Linked DNA regions of Homo sapiens: region 2 is linked to region 1. A link means that fine-mapping ties the variant in region 1 to the expression of a gene that starts in the linked region. Tissue or cell type: whole blood. Region 1 holds a variant in brackets; the other region holds the start of a gene. All regions are shown on one strand. Distances are between the middles of the regions.

Evidence for each region. PIP is the estimated chance that this variant, and not a neighbour inherited with it, causes the effect.
Region 2: it holds the start of PLEK, and the variant in region 1 is fine-mapped to the expression of PLEK in whole blood (INTERVAL, PIP 0.99).

Annotation. Positions count from the first base shown.
Region 1 is chr2:68,406,328-68,409,088 of GRCh38, reverse strand. No RefSeq gene overlaps it. Among named protein-coding and RNA genes, the nearest start is that of PLEK, 42 kb to the right of the region's middle. The variant C/A (reference allele first, on the strand shown) is at 1,489.
Region 2 is chr2:68,363,902-68,366,662 of GRCh38, reverse strand. PLEK (pleckstrin) reads right to left here and starts at 1,381. Exons shown (of 9, transcript NM_002664.3): 1 at 1,270-1,381. The coding sequence starts at 1,311. LOC101927723 (a long non-coding RNA gene) reads left to right here and starts at 259. Exons shown (of 2, transcript NR_187652.1): 1 at 259-1,248. RefSeq lists an enhancer at 1,342-1,421.

The DNA.
Region 1 (2,761 bases):
ATTATGTGGTTTTTGTCATTGGTTCTGTTTATGTGATGGATTACATTTATTTATTTGCATATGTTGAACCAGCCTTGCATCGCAGGGATAAAGCCAACTTGATCATGGTGGATAAGATTTTTGATGTGCTGCTGGATTCAGTTTGCCAGTATTTTTTTTGAGGATTTTCAAATTGATGTTCATCAGGGATACTGGCCTAAAATTTTCATTTTTTGTTGTGTCTTTGCCAGGTTTTGGTATCAGGATGATGCTGGCTTCATGAAATGAGTTAGGGAGGATTCCCTCTTTTTCTATTTATTGGAATAGTTTCAGAAGGAATGGTACCAGCTCCTCTTTGTACCTCTGGTAGAATTCAGCTGTGAATCCATCTGGTCCTAGACTTTTTTTGGTTGGTAGGCTATTAATTATTGCCTCAATTACACAACGTGTTATTGGTCTATTCAGAGATTTGACTTCTTCCTGGTTTAGTCTTGGGAGGGTGTATTGGTCCAGGAATTTATCCATTTCTTCCAGATTTTCTAGTTTATTTGCATAGAGGTGTGTACAGTATTCTCTGATTGTAGTTTGTATTTCTGTGGGACCAGTGGTGATATCCCCTTTATCATTTTTTATTGCATCTATTTGAGTCTTCTCTCTTTTCTTCTTTACTAGTCTGGCTAGTTGTCTATCTATTTTGTTGATCTTTTCAAAAAATCACGTCCTGGATTCACTGTCTCTATCTCCTTCAGTTCTGCTCTGATCTTAGTTATTTCTTGCCTTCTGCTAGCTTTTAAATTTGTTTGCTGTTGCTTCTCTAGTTCTTTTAATTGTGATGTTAGGGTGTCAATTTTAGATCTTTCCTGATTTCTCTTGTGGGCATTTAGTGCTATCAATTTTCCTCTAAACACTGCTTTAGCTGTGTCCCAGAGATGTTGATACATTGTGACTTTGTTCTCATTGGTTTCAAATAACTTATTTCTGCCTTCATTTTGTTATTTACCCAGTAGTCATGCAGGAGCAGATTGCTCAGTTTCCATGTAGTTGTGTGGTTTTGAGTGAGTTTCTTAATCCTGAGTTCTAATTTGATTGCACTGTGGTCTGAGCAACTGTTTGTTATCATTTCCATTCTTTTGCATTTGCTGAGGAGTGTTTTCCTTCCAATTATGTGGTCAATTTTAGAATAAGTGTGATGTAGTGCTGACAAGAATGTATATTCTGCTAATTTGGGGTGGAGAGTTCTGTAGATGTCTATTAGGTCTGCTTGGTCCAAAGCTGAGTTCAAGTCCTGGATATCCTTAGTAATTTTCTGTCTCAATATTCTTTCTAATATTGACAGTGGGGTGTTAAAGTCTCCCACTATTATTGTGTGGGAGTCTAAGTCTCTTTGTAGGTCTCTAAGAACTTGCTTTATGAATCTGGGTGCTCCTGTATTGGGTGCATATATATTTAGGACAGTTAGCTCTTCTTGTTGCATTGATCCCTTTACCATTATATAATGCCCTTCTTTTT[C/A]TCTTTTGATCTTTGTTGGTTTAAAGTCTGTTTTATCAGGGACTAGGATTGCAACCACTGCTTTTTATTTTTTCTTTCCATTTGCTTGGTAAATTTTCCTGCATCTCTTTCTTTTGAGCCTATATGTGTCTTTGCAGGTGAGATGGGTCTCCTGAATACAGCACATTGATGGGTCTTGACTCTTTATCCAATTTGCCAGTCTGTGTCTTTAAATTGGGAGCATTTAGCCCATTTACATTTAAGGTTAATATTGTTATGTGTGAATTTGATCCTGTCATTATGATGCTAGCTGATTATTTTCCCATTAGTTATGCACTTTCTTCATAGCATTGATAGTCTTTACAATTTGGCATGTTTTTGCAGTGGCTGGTACCGGTTGTTCCTTTCCATGTTTACATAGTGCTTCCTTCAGGAGCTCTTGTAAGGCAGTCCTGATGGTGACAAAATCTCTAAGCATTTGCTTGTCTGTAAAGGATTTTATTTCTTCTTCTCTTATGAAACTTAGTTTGGCTGGACATGAAATTCTGGGTTGAAAATTCTTTTATTTAAGAATGTCGAATATTGGCCCCCACTCTCTTCTGGCTTGCAGGGTTTCTGCAGAGAGATCAGCTGTTAGTTTGATGGGCTTCCATTTGTGGGTAACCTGACCTTTCTCTCTGGCTGCCCTTAACATTTTTTCCTTCATTTCAACCTTGGTCAATCTGATGATTATATGTCTTGGGGTTGCTCTTCTCAAGGAGTATCTTTGTGGAGGTCTCTGTATTTCCTGAATTTGAATGTTGGCCTGTCTTGCTAGGTTGGGGAAGTTGTCCTGGATAATATCCTGAAGAGTGTTTTCCAATCTGGTTCCATTCTCCCTGTCACTTCCAGGTACACCAATCAAACATAGGTTTGGTCTTTTCACATAGTCCCATATTTCTTGGAGGCTTTGTTCATTCCTTTTCATTCTTTTCTCCCTAATCTTGTCTTCACACTTTATTTCATTAATTTTATCTTTAATCTCTGCTATCCTTTCTTCTGCTTGATCGATTTGGCTATTGATACTTGTGTATGCTTCACAAAGTTCTTGTGCTGTGTTTTTCAGCTCCATCATGTCATTTATTTCTTCTCTAAACTGGTTATTCTAGCTAGCAATTCATCTAACCTTTTTTCAAGGTTCTTAGCTTCCTTGCATTGGGTTAGAACATGCTCCTTTAGCTCGGATGAGTTTGTTATTACCCACCTTCTGAAGCTTGCCTCTGTCAATTCATCAAACTCATTCTCCATCCTGTTT
Region 2 (2,761 bases), 42 kb after region 1:
AGATTAGCAGCTGAGGGCCCACTTATTCTCCAGTACCAACTCATAGCTCTCACCATCACAAATACACTACAAATCCTAACTTGGAATAAATCTGCTTTAAGAAAATGCTGGAGTAATGAACAAAGTTCAGTGCCATGAATCAGAAACCTAAGCATCAGAGAAGGAGTGGCTGGTCACAACTGTCATAGCCATGTGACTTGGGGCAATCACCGAGCCTTCTGGGTCTGTCTCCTCTTCTGCAAATGAAGGAATTAGGCCAGATGACCTAGGGTCCCTCCAGCCTGAAGTCAAAATGGAAGCAGGCAGCAATGTGTGCTATTTAACCCCCCTTACAGGTAGAACATTGTAGGTTAAAACGTGAAACAAATGAGTAGCCTAAAACAGACTCACATTCACTGTTCATTCAACTAAAAAGCTAAGCACCTGAAGGAAGGCACTACGTTCAGCTCATTTCTGAAACAATCCACTCACTAAGGTTAGTGTGAGCATATCTGTGTATATAGGTGTTGCCCACAGGACACCAAGTCCTATGTGTGAATTCACATCCCGGGGAGCTTTCACAACCACACAGCACACACTCAGCATCCGAAGAAAGACAAACAGCACTAAGAAAATTCAATTTTCATGATGCACACCAGGGAGGCTAAGCCTTTTTCAGTACCCTAATCTTTAAAATGGTGCATCTACCACCTCGATGCCACATTATGCAAATTTACTAAGAATTGTGAGTGAAGAGATTTCAGCCCAATTAAAAAAAGATAAGGTTTTTTTTAAACGTGTCAATTCCAAGAAGATGGCCCAAGAAATAAGCCGTAATTACTCTATCATTATATCAACTCTTTAATCACTTTTTTCCCCTTGCCTCCCAAAAAAAGAACTGAGGGGAAGTGGAATTTAAATAAAAAATGAATAGTCCCTCCAAGAAACCTCCATAGAAGAGGAGTATATCTTCTGACAGAACACATCTGTGTGCCTCTTAAAAAGGATATTCTAAATCTGGAGGGAGTTAGCTTAGATCCCCACCTTCCAGGCCCTGCCATCTGGAATTCTCAGACCCGTAATATCAAACTGTAAGGAAGCCGGGGCTGGATGAGTATCCCCACTCCCCTAACCCCACTCCAACATTCTATGTGCTACCACGCTCCCCTATTTCAACCCAACTGGTTGAACAGGAAACATTCCTAAGATGAGCAGGTAGCCGGTGGAGCTGAACCCAAGTCTCCCCAGCCCATGTCCACTGACACCCTGGTAAGTGGCACCTTCGCTCACCTTCTTCACAAGGTAGCCCTCTCTGATCCGCTTTGGTTCCATGCTGGCTGGACAGGCAGATGCAAAGGTCACTCTCAGGCAACTCCTCTCAGCAGCTGGGCCTCCTCTGCATGCTGAGGTGGCTGTGGGCCGCCTTTTCTACAGCAGGTCGCTTTCACAATTTCCCTTCTGCTGGCGGTCGCATGATCACATCCTCTTCCCCTCACTGGGTTGGAAGATCAGAATAAGGAACTGCAGAGTAAACCACCCATTCCTTGCTAATGCTGGAGACTTATTAAAACCACAGTTGGGTTGAATATTTACCTAAGGGAAATTCTTACTACCATACAGAAAATCCCTCTTTTAAAGAGAAAAAGAAGTGATGAAAGGAAGAGGAAGATGAACAAGAAAAACTTGTTGGTGAAAATTGTCCTGAGTAAGGATTATTCTTGAGATCCTGGAAATGCCCAATAAAAATGCCAAGAAATTCAGAACCATCTGGTTAGCATAACAAAGTTAACTACTAAATGAATGCCTACTTCTCTCTATGCCAAGCCCTGTATCAAGTGTTTCTCAGCCTACTTATTTTAAACTAAATTAGTCTGCACATCGGCCAGGCATGGTAGCTCACGCCTGTACTCCCAGCACTTTGGGAGGCCAAGGCAGATGGATCACCTGGGGTCAGGAGTTCAAGACCAGCCTGGCCAACATGGTGAAACCTTGTCTCTACTAAAAATACAAAAATTAGCCGGGCATGGTGGCGTGTGCCTGTAGTCCCAGCTACTCGGGAGGCTGAGGCAGCAGAATCACTTGAACCTGGGAGGCGGAGGTTGCAGTGAGCCGAGATTGGTCCACTGCACTCCAGCCTGGGCGACAGAGAAAGACTTCATCTCAAAACAAACAACAACAAAAATGAGTCCACACATCAAACCCATAGGGAAAGTATATTATTTTCCTTATCTTAGAGTAAGGAAACTCAGGCTCAGAGAAGAAAAGTTGTCTCAAGTTGACGCTGCAGGTCACAGGGGAAAGCAGAAGAACCAGGGAGGGATGTGCTAGGGTGCCACTGCCTCACATCAGGCATGAGAACAGGTGTTCCACGTTGAGTGCTGATCTCACAGTCAGCCTGTAAAAAGAAGTCCATCATCAAACAGGTTTTTGAGAAACTTTACAAAATAATCCCAGGTTGGCAACTCCTCTAAATGATGAACAAATTAAAGACCTTCGCCCCGCCAAAGTACTACAGTAAAGAATCCTATAATGGTGTTTTCCAAACTTACTTCGCCATAGCATTCTTTTTTGAACAATTTATGTTAACTTTTTTTGTCATAAATTGAATTAGATCTCCCAAAAAAGAAGTCCTAACCCTTAGCACTTCAGAATGCATCCTTATTTGGAAATAGGGTCATTGTAGATATAATTAGTTAAGATGAGGTCATACTGAAACAAGTGGGCCCTTAATCCAATGTGACTGGTGTCCTTATAAGAAAAGGGCACACAGAAAACAGCCATG